2 separate regions of the Homo sapiens genome follow, and region 2 is linked to region 1. Evidence: fine-mapped expression QTL. A gene starts in region 1. The other region holds a variant in brackets. All regions are shown on one strand. Distances are between the middles of the regions. Region 1 holds the start of SKIC3 (SKI3 subunit of superkiller complex). Region 2 overlaps FAM81B (family with sequence similarity 81 member B).

Evidence for each region. PIP is the estimated chance that this variant, and not a neighbour inherited with it, causes the effect.
Region 2: its variant is fine-mapped to the expression of SKIC3 in whole blood (INTERVAL, PIP 0.91).

Annotation. Positions count from the first base shown.
Region 1 is chr5:95,549,990-95,560,713 of GRCh38, forward strand. SKIC3 (SKI3 subunit of superkiller complex) reads right to left here and starts at 4,988. Exons shown (of 43, transcript NM_014639.4): 1 at 4,947-4,988; 2 at 592-661. It overlaps ARSK (arylsulfatase family member K), which reads left to right and starts at 5,112. Exons shown (of 8, transcript NM_198150.3): 1 at 5,112-5,415. The coding sequence starts at 5,290.
Region 2 is chr5:95,447,744-95,458,467 of GRCh38, forward strand. It overlaps FAM81B (family with sequence similarity 81 member B), which reads left to right. Exons shown (of 10, transcript NM_152548.3): 9 at 526-721; 10 at 2,406-2,698. The coding sequence ends at 2,539. Among named protein-coding and RNA genes, the nearest start is that of FAM81B, 62 kb to the left of the region's middle. The variant C/T (reference allele first, on the strand shown) is at 5,730.

The DNA.
Region 1 (10,724 bases):
GATGTCTTTAATATTCTTCCACAATATAACTCCCTATTAATTCTTTCCGCCTTATACCTCTCCTCCCACTATTCTCCTCAATCTCAACTGTCTTTTTTTAAATAAGAGTATTCATTTTGTACGTTTTCACTCAAGTTTTTCTACTACCAACCCAAAATATTTTTATCCAACATAAATCAAGAATAAAAAGTGGCAACAACTGCACTTAAAAAGAGTTAGAAAGTGACAGTCATGCCATAAAGGCAATGATATTCCTCAAGGACAACATATATAGGTATGATATATATGTCCCCAGTTGAGGCTATGAAACCTTAAATAATATTCCAATATGCTCATACAAAGATTCCACAAAGCTAAAACAACAATAATAATAAATAGTAATGATAATGACAACGGAAGCTAATTACAGAAAGGAAAAAAAACGATATCTTTAAATCTAATAACAAAAGGTATTTTGTAATGACCCATAGTCTGACATTAAAAAAAAAAAAAAAACTATGCCATTAAATCTTTCTTCTGAAAGGAATGAGTAAAAACAATCATTAAGTAAAAATAGATTCCAATTTATTATTTAGCATTGTAGACACTTACCTTTTACCAATTATTACCACCTCTATATTCTTCCCGAATTGAATTTGATTGTTCCTTACCCATTTTCCATCTAAATTAAACAAAAACAAGTATGAGACAATCATATAAAAAGGATGACACCCACAACCCAAAACCTTCTAAACTTTTTAACGCATCAATTTTCATAATTCATAATTTAAAACATGAGAAATAATTATGTATAATTTTTAGTATTTTTATTCTTTCCCAGAGAGACACTATTCTTAATCTCCAAACTTCTGAATTGGTCTAAACTATATTCCTGGGCCTCAGATGATAAAAGGAAACTTCTACAAGAGATCAGAAGGATTTTGAGAAACCATTTCAGAAACCCAAAATACACTGATGTCAATATAAAAAAATAGAGCCAAAGAAGAATATCTACTATTTCTGTGCCATTTTTGCTTTGAATCAAGGACATCTACAGACAACTAAGGGTACTTATTTACACCCAATTTGCAGCCTAATTATATTAGAATAGAACTTTTCTCTAAGGAACATAAGGAGTATAATATAATACAATTATATTAGTTTGTAATCTAATGAAAACAGAGAAATTTTTTTAATGTTAACAATGCATTTAAATAGTCATTAAAAATAGTAACACAACTACACATCTACAAATTCTAAGGATATTTTGATAGCATCCCTGAAGTGGCTTCTGTCAAACAAAAAACAATCTAGAATGGTCCCTGCAGAGAATGGAAGTGGTTTTGAAAAACTGAATAAAGTGAAAAAAAACATGCTACTTCAGAACTAGGAAGTAAACAATGTTTAGGTGAGGCAGGTAGGGATGAACAAGGAATGAAAAGTTTCCCTAACCAAAACACTCATTAGTGATCTACCGAAATAGAAGTGTCACTCCAACAGTAGAAAGTCTTACTGGTAAGAAAAGAAAGTATGGTAATCCAAACAATGTTTAGGAAAGTAAGATAATAGTTAAAAAAGAAAAAAAAGTACAAACTTGACTATTTCACTGGCTTCTTTAGCCCTGCTAACACTTGGCTGCCCTCCTCACCCAATCTAGTTTTATCACTCAGTCACTTCAACTCTGTTCTTACAAAGTACCCTAGATCCTGTCAGCCCCTTTACTCTGTCATATCCACCCACCAAGGCTTACCCTAGTTGAGAGTGAGCTTAGGAAATCAAATGGATCTAGGATCAAAGCCATTAGGCCTTGGGTACATGACTTCATTACTCAAAGCCCATTTCCTCACTGGTAAAGTAAGAATTACATCACTTACCTGATACACACATAGATGGAGTACTTGGACATAATCTATACTAATAATGTCCTATCTACTATTATTCTCTCAATCAACTTTGCTACTTGCCATTCCTAAAACAACTAGTGTGATAACTCAGTGTTAAAAATTTTCCCTACACATTCAAATCCCCAACCGTCCTGCAACCTCCTTCTTCCTTGCTCTCTCAAGAAGTAAACTTCTTACCTATACAAACGGCCCCTGACTTACAAATGGTTGAACTTACAATTTTTTGACTTTACGATGGGCTTATCAGCATATTAAATGCATTTTGACGTACAATATTTTCAAGTTAAAATGGGTTTATCATGGTGTAACCCACCATAAGAAGCATCTGTATTCCTCAAGACAGCTATCATCAAACATGAGTACCCTCTTCATATTAGTTACTACACTACATGAATACTAGAGTACAGCCTACAACAGGGATCACTCCCTCCTCCAAACCTCCAAACTGAGCTACTCAACTGCAACTTAACAAATATTATTTTTATTATCCTATATAGACATAATTCAATTATGTCTCCCAATTCAATAAATTCTTAGACGTAAGTCTTATATTTTCAGAGCTTCTTATATACCCAACACTTACTGGATAATACATATTCAATAAATAGCTAATGATCTTCCAGCTTCCAAGGCTTACCAGTGTTAACAAAAAAATGAGTGACTGAGGGAAGTGTCTCAATCAGTAGATGTTTATTGAGCCACACTTTGAGCACACGCCTGGGGAAAAACAAGCCACAGAAGCATCTGTGACCCACACTTTCCAAAGAGGGCTTTCGGAACTCAGTATTCTAGAGGAGAGCATGCAGGAGTGAAAAATGGCGGGAGGGAAGTAGGCAGTGAGGCAAATGGTTACATTCTCTTGAGTACCTTTTCTGATAGCATAGAATTACTGATTAGCAAAAATGTTGTACGTTCACAAAAGAGTAATCAAAACAATGAGGAAACCTGAAATTATGAGAACTAGCTGAAGAAACTGGGGACTAGGAAAAATAAATAAATGGTGGCGAGGGAGTTGGGGGAAGGACTGTTGAAAGGGAGAGATTATCCATGTAAAAGTGAAGAAAAATGCACTAATGAATGGTTAAAAATAGAGGAAGATTAACTTCAACTTAAAATAGGAACTTTTAATGAGACCTATATAAATGTGGAATGAGGTACTCAATGGAAGTGTTTCCCATCACTGGAGATGAAAAAGCACAGGCTGGACAATCCACTCAGCAGGAATGTTTTAGGATAAACTGAATGTCAGATGGGAAGTAGGACTAGAAGCCTCTTAGATTCTTCCAGCACAACGTCTCTAAGGCTCTAAAATATCTGTCTTGCTCCAAATCACTGCAGCACCTGCTCCTATTGACACTGCCAAGGGGAGAAAGAAGAAAAAGATGTATTCTTGTAAGCCTGTCATCAGAGTACATGTCCTGTGGAAACAAGGCTGTAGAGAGTAAGCACAGTTTATGGAATCAGACACAAAATTAAATATAACTTTTATGAATTTAAATGTCAGTCAATATTGTCACTATGGTAGAAAATACGTTCTACATTCCAAATTAACTCAAAACAAATTTGTTTTTATGAGAGAGCCCACTTGTATTACCTTCCGTGCTGTATTATTATTTCATGTATGCTTGGTTTTGCTTCCCTGAAATCTAAACTCATGTAAACTGAGACTATTGTTTAGGGGTTTTTTTGTTTTTGTTTTTTTTTTGAGATGGAGTTTTGCTCTTGTTGCCCAGGCGGAGTGCAAAGGTGCGATCTCAGCTCACTGCAACCTCCACCTCCTGGGTTCAAGTGATTCTCCTGCCTCAGCCTCCCTAGTAGCTGGGATTACAGGCGCCCGCCACCACGCCCAGTATTTTGCGTATTTTTCGTAGAGACGGGGTTTCACCATGCTGGCCAGGCTGGTCTCGAACCCCTAACCTTCGGTGATCCGCCCGTCTCGGCTTCCCAAAGTGCTGGGATTACAGGCGTGAGCCACCGCGCCCAACACTGTTTACGTTTTTGCATGCTCCCGCAGATCTTTATCATGCTGCTTGAGTAACAATTCTGCTACACTAACAGATAAACTAACTGCAGACAGAGCATTTAGTGAGTTACGGCACAGACTCTTCAATTTTCAGTCGTGCTCTGACTGGCTCCCTGTGTAAACTCAGGCCAGTCATTTAACCTCTCTAAGCCTGTTTTCCTATCTGCAATATGGTGAAAGTGAGGATTATAGAAAATATTCCATATAAAAGTACGTGGCACGCAGCAGATGCTCAGTAAATGCTTAGTATAACGCTCAGCACCTAAGTGCCATGTGAGTATTAAATAAACAAATCTGTTCCTTACTACAATTATCTTAGGCAAAAAAAAACCTGCCAGATATTAGTATTCAGTTGACTTAAGTAAGTAGTATAACTCCTCTTTTAACTGTCAGAATATTAAAACTACTAGTGTGATGTGCAAATTATATACCCGAAACTAGATACAGAAATTGGAATTTGGCTTTGGGACAGAAATCTGCTTCTTCCAGAACTCTCCAAAGGAATTCAACAGTCAAAAGAGACCGGTTTTTATTCTGCAGCAAAACAATGATATTCTGAACCTACGTCAACTAACTGAACATGTCACACAGCCCATTTCCCCCTCCAGTTTCGCTTATCTCCTTTGCTCTCTGAAGGCAAGGAACAGCTATGCTTTCCCCTGCCTACAGCCTGAAACTTCTTACTAGGCCCCGCTCCTCGCCCCATGGGAGCACAGTAAATCCTGACTGCACGGGGTAAGAGAAGCAATAAGATGAGACAGGCTAGAGATTTCCCTGGGAAGGTATTCGGGGGGGTCTAAGGCATTCACGGCGCACCTGAGGCGGTCCACCCAGAGGCCCCACAAGGCACCGCCCTATTCAACTTAAGTGACAGCCGCGCCGCCACCTCATCGCCGCCCAGTTCACGCTCTCGCCGAACACTCAGCCACGCTTGCGCGGCCCAAAATGAACAGCCCCGGCCCCGATCCTTTCTTTCTCTAAGTACCATTTCAATCGCCTTTAGGATCCCTTGTGCAAAACCGACAGAAATCCAAACCCACCTGGAGCAGATGCTCCTCTTCTACAAACGCCGAGGCTGCAATGAGAGCGCATGCGCCTTTCCCAGGACTCATTCACGTGACTGGAAGTGGCTGGGTTCTGATTTGCTCGGTATTTGATTAAAAGGTCTTAACGTGGGTAAAAGCGGGAATTTCTCTGTTGCGCATGTGCGCGCTCTCCGCCTGATAGGAGTTGTAGTTCTGCGGGTGAAGCTCGGCGTTACTATCAAGCAACCAAACTGCAAGCTTTGGGAGTTGTTCGCTGTCCCTGCCCTGCTCTGCTAGGGAGAGAACGCCAGAGGGAGGCGGCTGGCCCGGCGGCAGGCTCTCAGAACCGCTACCGGCGATGCTACTGCTGTGGGTGTCGGTGGTCGCAGCCTTGGCGCTGGCGGTACTGGCCCCCGGAGCAGGGGAGCAGAGGCGGAGAGCAGCCAAAGCGCCCAATGTGGTGCTGGTCGTGAGCGACTCCTTCGTAAGTACCGCGAGGCAGGGGAGGGGCGCCCCGCTGGGGATCGGCGACCTCACCGCCGCCGCCTGTGCTGCAGGCTTTGGGGAGCAGAACCTGAGACATTTTCAAACACCTTTTACCCCGATGCAAAGAAAGAAATACATTTTATGTGAGGCCCCGTGTACTCACACGTACACCACATACCTATGCAAACATGTAAAACAATAGTGAAACACTGAAAACATCTTTGCAGATCTTTTTTTTTTAATACTGACCTCGATTCGCTAAATTATTTTACCACGACTAATGAACTTTCAGTCCATACCCCCGTTTGGTTTAATTGTGTGGTAAAATAACATTCTGCATCTCCATAAAAGCGTGTTAGCTTTCCAAAAGTCATTTTCCAGTTCACCTCAAGTTTGCAGGAATTCATGTTTGGGTGAGAAGTGAAGAAAGTTTATTTTTATTACCCAGGTCTGTGATAATCCTGTTAGTGCTGATTCAAATGGAATCGTTGGTATAACTTGATTCACTCCCCCGTATTCCAGAGAAATTGTGTGTATGTGTGTGTGTTGGTAATGTGGCTGAATCCCAAACTTAAACAGTTTTTGAAACTTTCCCAAGCCAAAGGTGCTACTGTCAACCTTACGCGATGCTTTTAGGATGATCCATGTTTTAAAAAGTGCTGCTTAGACAATTGTTTGGTTATTAATTGTAATATTAGTTTATTATCACTCGGTGTTACTGTGGTCACACAGATGTTGGTGTTAAGCATATCTGGCACTAAAGAGTGTTTGTAATCATATGTTGTATTTCCTTTCTCGTAGATTCCTGATGATTAAAATTACATAGTCTGGATGTGCCCATGGGATTTTTTGAAAATATTACTTAAAGTTATCTTTGTGATTTAAACTTAGAGAATGGGCAGTACTGGAAATTGACTAGATGGCATTTTATTACAGAGTGCTCTTGTAATCAAAGGCAAATGAAGGAAGCAGGATTGTGCAGAGGAGAAGCTGAATTTTGTTGCCATCTTATGAATGACAGTTCTCAAACTAGTATGGTGCTTCAGAGCTGCTTTCCAATAGGAGTGAGGAGAACAGACCTTTCCACCTGCATGTTGGATGGCCACTGGTTGTGGGCTGCTCCTAGAATGGGGCATGGTGTTGGGCAAAGCAGCTGTCTTCAGCAGAGGCAATTGTTCATTCCTAAAAGGGAATCCGAATGTGGATCACAACATCCCAGAAACTTCCAAAGATGACTGAGATATATAGGTTTGTTATTTTTTTTAGTGTAGTATGAATGCATAGATTTTTCTATATTTGTGCTTAAATTTTTTGCATTCACGGCCGGGCGCGGTGGCTCACGCCTGTAATCCCAGCACTTTGGGAGGCCGAGGTGGGCGGATCACGAGGTCAAGAGATCAAGACCATCCTGGCTAACACAGTGAAACCCCGTCTCTACTAAAAATACAAAAAAATTAGCCGGGCGTGGTTTCGGGCGCCTGTAGTCCCAGCTACTCGGGAGGCTGAAGCAGGAGAATGGCGTGAACCTGGGAGGCGGAGCTTGCAGTGACCTGATATCGCACCACTGCACTCCAGCCTGGGCGACGGAGCGAGAGTCCGTCTCGAAAAAAAAATAAAAATAAAAATAAAAAAATTTTTAAAAAATAAAAAATAAAAAAAATTTTTGCATTCACATACTTGTTAATATTCAAACTGTCCTATCTTTGGCCAGTGGAAGCCCCTTCAGGTGGTTCTGAGTCCTTTTGACCCATCCCCATTAGTATTTGACAGCTTGCTTTAACAGAGTTCCATGTCCACAATACATATTTCCTGTCCCATCTTGTATTTAGAGACCACAGTCTGAGTGTTAGGGTGTTCATTGCATCTAGACCTTTCCAGTGGACAAATCTAGAAAGTATATAATATTTTAGAATGAGAAAAATAAATTGTGAGATCATACTGATACTTTCCATTCAAATTTAAGATTACAAGTTTATTCTTTGATTTTTATACTTATATCTTTTTTGTTTTATGCCAAATATTTTGGTCTAAATGCATTAATGCAATTACTTATTTGCTTTATCCAAACATATAATATGTATATATCAATGTGTTTGAAAATAAGACTGTAATATTACTAGAAATAATGCTAGTCCTGAGTGCAGCTTACAGTTTCTTTGAAGTTTTTGTTTTAGGTATATTCAACTATATAGTAAAAATGTTGGTCTTTAAACTTAAAATAATTCCTCTCTCTATGATTATACCAGTTTGGTATGCTGTTAGATTCTTGACACTGTGATTTATCATTTCTAAAACTCTGCAGGCTAAGATAGAGCAGTTAAGCTGGATAATAATTGTAGGAAGAAAATAGCAAATTGGTTTTACTTTCAGGATAACAACGCAAGAGCTTTGTAGATCAACTCCCAAGAAAACAAGCAAACCAAATGAAAACTCTTTTTTAAACTATACATAAAAACTATTAAATATTTGAAACACTTAAAGTGTCTGGAAACTGTCCTAAGGTCATACACCAAATGAAGAAACATTTATTCAAGAAAATCTATGAAAACTTGGTAAGAATAGCAAGAAGGGTCTGTGGCAGTGAACTATAGTTTTGACAGAGGTTTCACTCAGGTGGGTGTGGCCAAGAAGATAGGACTACTCCCCCTCGGCTCCCAATCACCAGTTATGGTATCTCACCAAAAGGGACAGGCTGTGAGATTTCTCATCTTCTCCTAATCCAAGTTGGAGAGGTTAAATTCCTAATGAATGCAGCTGAGAAGTTGAGGGCTCCCTTACTTCAGTCAGCCCCCACTTACAGGACAGAGGCTTTATGCCAAGTGCGGAAAGTTGAGAATCCTAGGGCCCTAATTGCCCTGGCCCTAGCTCTCTAGTAGGACAGAGGTTCCATACCAGGAGAGACAAGCTGAGAAGACCAAACAAGCTTCTGCAAAGCAAGCAGAATGGAGGAAATAATAAGGATTAGGGCAGAAATTAAAGAAACAGAGGATGGAAAAATAGTAGAGAAAATCAATGAGACCAAAAATTGGTTCTTAGACAAAATCAGCAAAATTGACAAACCTTAGCTATACTGAACAAGAAAAAAGACAAAAGAGCTAGATGACTAAAATCATGAAAGAGAATGGTTACATTATCTTAAGAAATAAAAGAATTACAAGGGAATACTTACATACAACAACTGTATGTCATCAAATTAGATAAATGAAATGGACAAATTGCTAGGAAGGCAGAAACTACTGAAACTGACTCAAGAAGAAATAGGCAATCTGAATAGACCTATAAGAAGTAAAGAGGGTAAACTGGTAATTTTAAAACTACCAACAAAGAGAAGCACAGACCCAAACGGTTTCACTGATAAATTCTACCAAATACTTAAAGAATAATTAATACTAATTCTTCATCTACTCTTCCAAAAATTAGGAGAGAACACTTCCAAACTATAAGACCAGTTTGGCCGGGCGCGGTGGCTCACACCTGTAATCCCAGCACTTTGGGAGACCGAGGTGGGTGGATCACCTGAGATCAGGAGTTCGAGACCAGCCTGGCCAACATGGCGAAACCCTGTCTCTACTAAAAATACAAAAATTAGCCAGGCGTGGTGGCAGGCACCTGTAATCCCAGCTACTCGGGAGGCTGAGGCAGGGAGAATTGCTTGAACCCAGGAGGCAGAGGTTGCAGTGAGCCGAGACGTGCCATTGCACTCCAGCATGGACAAAAGAGCAAGACTCCATCTCAAAAAACAAAAACAAAAAAACAGTTCATGCCTGATTCCAAAGCCACGAATACATCACAAGGAAAGAAACCCACAGACCAGTATCCCTTAGGAATATAAGAGCAAAGATCCTCAACAAAATGGATTTGGCCCTCCATATTCACAGGTTCTGAATCCGCAGATTCCACCAATCTCAGATAAAAATATATGGTATTTATGGGATGTGGAACTCACAGAACTTGACTTTTCCTATCCATGGGTTCCACAGGGCTGACTGTGGGACTTGAGCCCGCAAAGATTTGGTATCCTTGGGAGGTCCTGGAAACAATCCCCTGCAGATACCAAGGGACAAATGTACTAGGAAACCAAATTCATTAGTATGTAAGAAGGATTATTCACCATTACCAAGTGGAATTTGTCCCCAAAATGTACAGTGAGTTTAATATCTGAAAATCAATTAATGTAATACATCATGTTGACTGAATAAAGGACAAAACCCATGTGATCATCTCAATAGATGCAGAAAAAGCATTTGAGAAGATTTGACAATCCTTATGCATTCAACTGGCTAGAAATAGAAGGGAACTAAAAGGCATCTACAAAAAAAGCCAGAACTTTACACTGAATGGTTAAAAGAAAAAAAAAATCAGTTTTCTGACTAAGATCAGGAAGAAGACAAGGATGTGTGTTCTCACCACTGCTATACAGCATTGTACTGGGGGTTCTAGCCACAGAATTAGAAAAAAGATTAAATAAAAGGCATTCACATTGGAAAGGAAGAAGTAAAAGTATCTATACTTGCAGTAATCTTGTATGTAGGATTCTACGGCTCCACTACAAAACTATTGAACTAATAAATTAGTAAGGCTGTATACCAGATCAGTGTACAAAAATAAATTGTATTTTATATACTTAATTGATTAACACACTTATAGTCAAATTAAGAAAACAGTTCCATTTAAAGTAACATCAGAATGGATGAAATACTTAAAATAAATCTAATCAAGGAAATATAGTTCTTATACTCCGAAAACTACAAAACATTGTTGAAAGAAATAAAAGAACATTTAAATAAATGAACAGACATCCCCTTTTCATGGATCAGAAGATTTAATATTGTTAATATAGCAGTACTCACCAAAATGATCTACAGATTCAATTCAATGCCTGTCAAAATCCCTAGAACCTTTTTTTTTTTCTGCAGAGATGGAAAAACCCATCCTAAAATTCATATGGTAATTCAAGGGACCCAGAATAGCCAAAAATAAATCTTGAAATAAAAAGAACAAAGTTGAAAGACATACACCTCCCAATTTTAAAGCTTATATCTTAACTACACCAATCAATGTAGTATGTTATTGGCTTAAGGATAGGTGACATACAGATCAATGGAATAGGATCTAAAGTCCAGAAATAAACTCTCATATTTATAGTAAATTGATTTTTTAACAAGGGTGCCAAGACCATTTAATAGGGAAAGAATGATCTTTTAAACAAATGGTGCTGGAAAAAAAAAATATGAATGAAGTTGGACCCTGCCTTGCACCATACACAAACACACAAAAAAAAACTTTAAGTAAATTGATTGATTAATC
Region 2 (10,724 bases), 100 kb before region 1:
AGGCTGACTCTGCAGTCCCTACCTTGGTTGTACATTAGAATCACCTGGAGAGTGCTTAAATCCTATCAGTTCTTGAGCTCCATCACAGACCAATTAAATCAGAATTCCTGGGGCTGGGGTATGGTCCAGGTGATGTTACTAAACGACTGGAATGGCGAGTCACTATTCTAGCCGAAGTCTGTCCACGTGGAGGTATGAAATTGAGGGAGTATGTCCAAGAAACTCAGGAAAAGCAGTATCTAAAATGTCTTTGAATATTAGACTTAAATGCCAAATTCTCAAGGCATTTGGGCCACGCTACAGCCCTTTTCTTTTATTCCATTACATGTTGAATTCCAGAAACTACAAATGAACAGGGCCAAAGGGATTAACTCTTATACTTATGAACACAGTTTTAGATACAAAGGAACTTGGTTTGAATTTTCATGCTTAACATAGAAAAATGAATGTTAAAAATATTTTCTCTAAGCTGAAAGATAAATCCATGTACATTTCTGAAGTTTTATCCCATAATCTCTTTTACAGGAAAAGTCTGAAAATAAAATGGAAGAAAAACTGCTGCAGCTTTCAAGCAAAGTAGAGAATTTCATTAACACACAGAAACAGGAAACACAACTAAGTAAAGTAAAGCATATGGAAAATAAATTGTCCAAAAAGATGGAACAAATGGAAAAGCAGATCTGGGGTGAATTAGAGACAATGCAGAATGAATATCAATCAGGTGAGCAGATACCTTTTATTAAGTAAAGAATATCTGTCCTTTCCTGTTCAATCCCTCAGTCTTCCACTTTGAGCTAATGGCCAGGGATCAATCTTGTCATTAGTGACATCGTTATGTATTTATTCCACTTTTCTAAATATCCTATAGAATATGAGTATTATACTGGAAGGCATATAAATAAATTAACTTTCTTCACTTGGCAATGTCACAGGCCTGCCATTGGTGTGAATTTTTTTTTTTTTTTTTTTTTACTAAGATCATGGAATTTTTACTAATTCATGGAATTGTCAGACTTGGAAAATCCTTGGACATACCCAAGACGTGACTTGTGGGTATGTTATGAAATTAAGAGCCTAAATCAAATGCCCTTCTCATTGAACTACAAGTAATGAGCTTGGACAGATGTCAGACTGGAGACCTGACCTTTAGAAGTGAGAAAGAGGGATGAATTAGCAGAGTCCAGTATAATGACTGCTTTTATTTTGAAGAGGCTAATGGCAGCAGTGTCAAGCTGAGCTAACATCAAAGAGGATTAATTTGAAAGGCTCATCTAATTTCTCAAAGGGAAGGACATGGAATAGGTGCTGTGGTGCAGCCATCTGCCTTGAGTCATAATTCTGAGGGAATTACCAGGACTCAGAAGAGTTTCTTTCCTAGAGAAAGTCCCAAGTAATTTTTTTTCTTTTGTCTTCTAGATCTCAGAAAAATTCATGTGTAAATTCTACCAAATTTGGTCCTGTATAGAGATACCTTGGAGGTGCCTTGGGAGGACATGAGGGTCTCAATCTGCCAGATGTTCCTGGCATATAAGTAGAATTTGCTGCCTGGAAATTCAACCCTCACAATATACCCCTCCCACCGTCATATCAAAATAATGAATTATCTGGCCAGGAATCATGTCCCAAACTTAACTGGCCCTTCTTTTAAAGGCTCTGCTTTCTGTTTAACTATCAGAGGTTTAATTTTACTTATTCCATTAGTAAAACTTCAGGGTGAACTGAAAAGGAATTTACCACCTGCAAGTTCTTTCATTTTACTAATGAGGAGGAGTTCTAAAAAGGGGGAACTTCAAATTAATGGTTTGCTGCTTTATGCCTTTAATAAAAATGTGTTGAGAAACGACTCTGTGAAAGGCCCCAGTGAATAACAAATGGGTTGTGCCCTAAGGCCTTGAGGTTTGATAGGTCTGTGGTCAGGAGTGACTAGACATGCATAAGAGAGATACAAAGTGCTAGGAGGGAGGAGGGCAGCAGGGGGCCGCTGTTAGGTCCCTCAAATAGGCTACTTTCAGAGAAGATTTAAAATCTCATCTGTGATCTTTACCTTCAATTTGGTAACAAGACTGAAAAAAAATCACACAAGTCTCTCATCAAAGCATTCAGAAAGAATAAAATATTTTAAATTTCTCTCTTGCAATATAGAATTATGCAATATATTTGAGGAGGAGAAAAATAAATTTCACAATGAAACCAGATAACTAGATATAAGTTGAAACACTATTGTGAATGGATCTTCATGACATACAAGAAATATATTATGTACAATTTTAGGCTGGTCTTCATAGAATTTAATGCGCTTGGAATTAAATGATAATCAATTATGGCAGGACTGCCGATTAGCAACTTTTTTAAAAAAAAGCTCTAATGCATTGTTTAAGTGTACCTATTCTTTTACCCTCTTACAGGATTTAAATCAATTCATGACTCTCTCAGCTCCCTCCAACAAATACAGAAAACAAAGATGGATTTAGAGAAATATAAAGTACAGAAAGACCTAAAGAAATTACAGCGCAAGATAGTGGAACTCCAGGAAGTATAAACCTTTTCAGTCATCTTCTTTTTCATCAGCCAATGGAGTGATTTGTTGGAAAAAGTTCTGAAGAAGAAAGTTACTATCTCTGGGATGTTTACTGCTTCTAATGTCTCCTTTTAAGGAGACGAATGTACCAGAAAAATAATAAAGCAAAGAAGCTTCGGATGTCTTGAATTTATTAATGAAAAAACTAAGAAATTTCTTTATATAGCTGCCTTTATGTATATATATACCTATAAATAACGAAAGAGGAATCTACATAAGGTACATGAGTGAAGTAGGCCAGCTGTAATATATTAAAGAATGACAGGAGCTCTGGCAAATTGGAGAGCACTTACTCTGTCTAAAAATAATAGCTACTATGTAGTGACAGTCCATGACTAACATATATATATATATATAAAATCCATTATTATCCAAAATTCCACTTTTCAAGAGAAATTCCTCTATTTTTAAGCTTTAGCAACTAGTTCAAAATAGTTCTCAAACTATGTGAGATACGCCTGTGGAGCAGATATGACCTAGTGGTCAGTTTGCAACTTCTAATCTCAATGTTTGTAGCAAGTCTAACTTATGCATATTTAAAATATATTTTCCTTGTACTCAATATGTACCAGAATTATAAGCAATTAAGAGCCAAACCATGCAAAATAAGAGAATACAACAGTTTCCATGAAAACATATCCAACGTAATTTGACCTAGGTGCTAAATTCAGAAGTACTTCAAAAATGCTAGTTTCCTATACAATTAAAAATTGTTGGCCAAGTGCAGTGGCTCACACCTGTAATCCTAGCACTTTGGGAGGCTGAGGTGGGTGGATCACTTGAGGTCAGGAGTTTGAGACCAGCCTGGCCAACATGGTGAAACCCCGTCTCTACTAATAACACAAAAATTAGCCGGGTGTGGTGGCGTGCGCCTGTAATACCAGCTACTCGGGAGGCTGAGGCAGGAGAATCACTTGGAACCCTGGAGACAGAGGTTGCAGTGAGCTGAGATCACGCCATTTCACTCCAGCCTGGGTGACAAGAGCAAAACTCTGTCTCAAAAAAAAAATTGTCTAACTTTTCTAGATATAAATATTAAATATAGAGCCTAATATTGAGCAGTATATTCATGAAACATAAAAATGAACTATTCAGGATATGCACTCGGCTATAACAAGGACTAATTTCTAATCACAGAACTTATGTAAGCTTGGCAATGGAAACTTTGCTTCCGACTTAGGCTCCTTCCTTGGCTTAGGGAAGAAAAGTGACAACTTCCTCCCCTAATACAGAACAAGTTTACCTTCTGAGTAAATTTTTGACTAATGCTCACTTCTGTAATGTTTTAACTCTATGAAACATCTCCTTTTATTGCTATTAATAACCCACATGCAGCATCATTGAGTCTATAACTGAAGGGATTTTCATAGCAGAATTTAATTTAAGAGTTTAAAATGCAGTATGTTCAGTGATGATATGGTATCCAACGAAAAAGTAAGAAATATTAAAATAATGCAATGGTAAGTGTCCTTTGTAACCAAGTATCATGCTAAGACAGAGGGCTAATATCCCAAGTAATCCCAAATAACTTTTACAAGTAAGTAAGAAAATAATCAATTTTTTTTCAAAATGGGCAAAGGATATGAACAGGCAAGCCACAGAAGAATATAATAATATGAAGGTATGAGAAGATGTCCAACTTTACTGTTAAATAAATAAAAATTAAGAAACCCTTAGCTACTATTTTCAAGATTGGCAAAGATTAAAGTGATTGATAATACTGGGCTGGCAAGGGTGGAGAAAGAGTGCACTCTCATACATTATTGGCGAGTCTATAAATTGGTACAATGATTTAGATGGCAATTTGAGAACATCTGTTAATGTTTTTAAATGTAAATATCTTTTGATCCTGCAATCCATGGCTAGAAATTTATATTACCGGGGGAAACAACTCCCAAAGTGTGCAAAGATATATGAACAAGAATGCTCATTATAGCATCATTTGTTATAGTTAAAAAAAAAAAAAAAAGGAAAAGAAACACCAAAACCAGAAAACACCCAAATATAAGGAATTGATTGACTAAATGGTATTAACAAGACCACTCCCCCCACCACCCAATGCTGGACAGCCCTTTAAAAAGAACACAGAAAGATGTCCAAGATATACTGTTAGGTGAAAAAGACAAGTTTAAAAGCAATATGGATATGATCCACTTTTGTCATAAAATGTTTTAACTAAGTTAAACATAATATGCATATACTGTATGCCAAAAAAGGTAAGAATTTACAACAAACTTAGTGGATTCTATTTTTTAAAAAACTTCTGTTTTCTACATTAAGGATTTATGAAAGCTTTTATATTTTTATATAATATTTTTGTTTCTACTAAAAATATTTTATAAAAACAACAACAAATATAATAGGCTGAAAGAGTAACTCTTTGTAATGAACTAAACAAATGATTGTAGGGAGGGTTAAATTAGGAATTAATACAGACTAAGAGTCAAGTCATCTCACTCTCTTTTTGCTATACAGACATAGCTACAAAAGCAGAGAGGATACACAGCAACTGAAAAAAATATACATTTTCTCCTTGTTCTAAATGTTCTAATGTTCTAAAATGTTCTAAATTAGATTGTAGTTCAAATAATAGTGTAAAATCAGGCCAAAAGTTTTCCAACAATAGATCTTTCATTGCTCTTGGCCAGGACAGTAACATGTGGGGCAGTAGATCAAAGGATCAAAGAATCCTCTATCACCACTCTTCTACTTGGGATGCCAAATTGAGGTGTTCACGGGTTTGCACAGACTCTAGATAGTCAAAGAACTATGCTCATTGAGCAGGTGGATCCAGGTTTCTCAGAGTCTAAAGCTTATGATGTTTCAGTTTGTTATTGATGTACTGTCCTGATGCCAGATGAGTTAGCACAGAAGTCTATAAGAATATTCCTGGAAGCCACTCCTAATCAGGACAGCTAGTAGTAACTCAACACAGAAGTGACTGTGAACAACATGAATATATCCCTGTAATCCAAATGTATCCCCAACTCAACTTCTCTTTGTCCACAGCCACTTCAGCACCACCCGACATCAAGGGAAGTGGGAGTGAAAAGAGGCAGTGGTCTTAATCAATGGCATTCATCAATTATGTTTAAAATGTCTTACTTCTGTAAATATGACAATGATCTTGTAAATACATGGCTAGAGCTCA[C/T]GCAAGCAGGAGCCCCTGAAGCTTAAGAGCCATTGTTTCACAGTAAATTCACCTCTGTTCAAGGAACCAGTGGAGCACTGGGCCTCCCTCCCCTTGCATTTATTTTGACAGAAATCCAAAAAGATAAATAAAACTATCCTCCTAAAGAAGCTCAATATACATGGCACTTTATTCCATATCAAACAATATTACTTAATCCTTTGGGAAATGTCAGACTTCTCTTCCCACAAATATAGGATGATTGAGCACTGGAGAATCTGCAATCCAGATCCACGCTACAGACTTGAGGCATATGTTAAAATATGCTCAGGTAGTTTTTACTTTAAGTACAAACACCATTTAAACAGTCTTGAATAGTTAAGGGTCCTACTGCCCTTAAATTTCCTGTTGTTTCCTTCCTATTATCAACACCTGCTCTTAGAAAACATAGGAGAAAAGCCCCTTGACATTAGTTTTGACAATGACTTTTTGGATATAACACCAAAAGCACAGGCAACAAAAGTAAACAAGTGAGATTACATCAAATTAAAAAGTTTCTGCACAGCAAAGGAAACAATCAGCAAAATGAAAGAACCTATGAAATGGGAGAAAATATTTGCAAACCATATATCTGATGGGGAACTAGTATCCAAAAACATATAAGGAACTCAACAACTCAATAGCCAAAAACACAAATAACCTGATAAAAAAAATGGGCAAAGGACCTGAATAGATGTTTTTCCAAGAAGATATACAAATAGCCAACAGATATATAAAAACTCAAATGATAACAGGTGTTGGTGAGGATGTAGAGAAAAGGGAACCCTCGTGCACTGTATGTGGGACAATAAATTGGTACAGCCATTAGGGAAAACAATATGGAGGCTGTTCAAAAAAACTAAAAATAAAACTATCACATGATCCTGCAATCCCACTTCTGGAAAATAAAGTGAAAACAGTATGTCAAAGAGATATTTGCACCCTATGTTCACTGCAGCATTATTCACAATAGCCAAGATGCGGAAACCACCTGACAGAAGAATGGATAAACTGTCATCTATGTATATACATATATATATAATTCAGGTTTACAGAAGAAAGAAATCTTGCCATTTGCGACAACATGAGTGAACTTAGAGGGCATTATGCTAAGTGAAATAAGCTAGGTACAAAAAGCTAAATACTGCACAAACTCACTTACATGTGGAATCTCTTTAGAAATAAATGAAGAATAGAACAGTAGTTGCCAGAACTCATAGAAATAAACAGAGAATAGAACAGTAGTTGCCAGGGGCTGGGAGCCGAGGCAAATGGAAGATTTCAGTCAAAGGATACAAACTTTAAAGTTAAAATGAATAAATTCTGGAGATCTAATGTACAGCATGTGGATCATACTTAATAATGTACTGTCTATTTGAAATTTGCTGAGAGATCTTCAGTGTTCTTACCACACACACAAAAATGGTAACTATGTGAGGTGATACGTTAATTAGCTTGATTGAGGTATCACAGTGTATATTAAAACCCACAATGTACATCTTACATATGTAGAATAAAAAATTTTAAACTTGCTCTTTGGGGAAAAATCATATGAAATTATTCATACTGAGGACTAGATGGTCATGTTCAAAGTGTTTTACTTCTGCACTAAAAATTAAGGACAAATCCCTCCCCTTCTGCCACACAGGTAACTGCTTTCTCAGCCCCATTGTGAGGCATATATGCTTGCCATCTGGTAGTCAGGACAGCAGCAAGGCCCAAGACTTTGGTCAAAGAAACAGCATTCCCAGAGTACTCTAGACACCAGCAGCCCTCCCGTCTTCTAATTTTCCAAACATAGACTCCCTTCCATTGGCTTCACCCATAGTAGCAGCAAGTAGCATCCCAAAACACCAAGAAGGAAAAATTTGATCTATAGTACACACACACACACACACACACACACACACACAGTGCACATTGTTGCCTTACAAAAGGGATCTCCAAAGTTTTTGTGAAGTATTACTATTTCTATCTTTCCAGCTTCCATACATCCATGGGCTAGCCACTGTGGATACAATATTGAACAACCTAAACACAAACCCTGCCTTCAGGGAATTTATAGTTTAGTGGAAAAGACCAACAATTAAAATCACAAATACATGGGAAAGTAGAGTGTAATGGGAGAGCCAGAGAGAGGAAACACATTCCCTGTGTTTACCAGAAACACAGGGAATCAGGCAGAGGGGTCTTCCAGAAGAAGGAGTATCTAAATTGAGACCTCCAATGTATAAGCAGACATAAGTCAAGGGAAAGAGGCTTGATTGGTAGAGGTGAGGGCTCAGGCAGATTGATCAGCCTGAGCAAAGGCCTGGAGGCCAAAAGAGAATGGGGATATATGCCAGAAATTGCAAGAAGCTCAATAAGTGTAGGTCAGAGCCTATGCTGTGTGTTAGGGGAGGTGAGTAGTGAGAGAGAAGGCTGGAGAAGTTAGGGAAAGTGGGGTGTCTAATCACAAAAGACTTTGTAACTCATATTGAGAAACTTGGGCTTTATCTTAAGGATCCAGAGTAGCCTTTAAAAGATCTTAAATAGGAGAGTGACAGATTTGCATTTTATAGAAAGATCCCTCTGGCTGCAGTGTAGAGAATACATTAGATGCAGTGTGGGAAGCAAATTTGGGTGGGAAAGGAGGGAAATAATACAGCAGAGAGGGGATAATGAGATGTTTTAAACTAATTGATTTTGAGGCATCTATGGGACATCCAAATGGAGATGTCCAGTGGTTAGTGAGAGAGCTGGGCCTGGAGCATGAGAGAAAGATCTGAACTGGGGATTTAGCTTTGGAAGTCACCAGCAGAGAAATGGTTACTGGAATTACTGGGGAGGAAGGCATTGCCTTGGTTAGGTGGGATAGGGGTTGGGGACATGAAGACTACAGTGAGAAGTAGAGACCAAGAACAACCTAACACTGAAGACACCTAACACTGAAAGAACAGCAGAAGAGTCCTGGGCGAGTATGGGGAGACGTGCAGCAGTAAAGTAGGAGAGGGAGTGTAATCATTTGAAGGTTTCAGTGTTCCTTGGGAGTTCCTGCTGGCAGACGGTGTCAGTAATCAACTTGAAGTTCTACTAGTATTACTTCAAGACCCACCATTAGTTTTCCATTTATCAAAGAGGACCCCAACCTACAGTGTAAACTTGACAAGGTATATTATGCAACACAGTGAAGAATAGTTACAAATGCTTTCTTGAGTCTCCTTCCATGCCATAAAATAAACATGCTGCATCTTCTCCAATGCAGAGAGGGTGGGGAGCCCTCCTTGAGAGAGGAAGGATGGTTGCCAGGAAAAACATTAGGCTGTTTTGGCCTCTACCTAATTAGGCATTTCCCTCTTCAGATTAGAGTTACACACACTTGTGTTAAGGGTTTAATATTATGTCAAATCGTTCCCTTGATATACAGTTATAAAAATGTGACTCCATAGACTAAATTTCCATAACTCTCTGTTCTTTTGTAGAGTTTTGCTACTTCCTTTCAGAAGATATTTACAAATACAAATGTGATGTTTACAAATCAGAAATCATTGATGAACTCAGCACTACGTCATAAACCAGGTCTTCCTCAACAGTCTCAAAAGATGCACTGAGAAAAGAGAAAAATAACCCAAACTTCTATGCTGAGAAGTCTTGAAGGGTCTTGTGGCCTAACAAGCCAGAGTTTAAACCCAGTGCCACCATTCATTAGCAGTGTGACTTTGGATATATTCCTTAATTTCAGAATCTCAATTTCCTTATCTTAAAATGGGGATAACAATACCTATCTTGTAGGCTACTGAGGCATTAGAAAAAACATTTATTGAGCTATCATCAGATATTAGAGATAGCTCAAAGTACTTTCCATAGATTAATGCATTTAATCTACCAGATGCCTATTACCGAGGCACAGAGAGGTTAGATAACTTATGTAAGGTCATATTGCCAGTAAAAGATAGAGCAAGGATTTGAACTCACAAGAACAGAGAACTTGTTCTTAAACATTATGCTACACTGTTTCTCTAAATATATGTAAACCATCTAATACTAGTGTCTGATACATAACAGGCACTGTACTTGATAAATGGTATTAATACAAGTAAACAGAGCTTTTTATCTTTATGGGAAAAGAAAGACAAGTTCCATGGTGCACTGGCATACAACTCTGATTCAGATTAGTATCTAAAAATACTTGAGCTTAAAAAAGATTCTTTTACTATGTATGAGAAGAAATACCTTGGCTTGCAATAATTCTAGCAATGGACAAAAGCAGAGGGAAGTACAAAATATAGATTTCTCCTGCAACAAACTATAATGTGGAACTATTCCTCTATTTTAAAAGCATTTCTTTCAATTGTCTCTGGAGAAGGAGGCTAACAGCTGAAGCAACATTATGGGCATTGACTGGAGGTGCACAAGATGCTGATGCTACTGTCCAGTGAAGGATGTTTCCTCCAAAAGTCCTGGCCATCAAAGCAAACCCAATAGCCATTACAGCCAGGTAAAAGCCATTAGTACTCATCTAGTAGGTCCTTCTACAAAAAAGTAATGCACTGTGTTCATAAGGCAAACATTCAGGGATAGACTTCAAATGGAGTGGGGCCTACATGGTACTGGACAAACCCCCTCCCCTACAACCCAAAATGACTCTTATACTAAAGAATCCGTGTAGTCTCTAGGCCAAAATTCTATCACATAGCACTTAACAGCTTCGAAGTATTCATAATACCAACATTAAATATTCAAAAAATGCAGGAATGGATGGATGGATAGGTAGAGGAAGAAAGAAAAGAATGAATGAATGAACATATACACACCCATGAGATTTTACCAACTATCTTCTCTGCGGGGATTAGTTGATAAAGAAAAAAAAAGTAAGGTCCTTTGTACCTTAACATGGGATGGCCAAAAGAAAGTTGAACTCTGGGAAGACAGGTTAGAAAAAGCCAAAGAGAAAACCAAGGGGCGGCATTTGTGATGTTATCAAGGATTAAATGATTA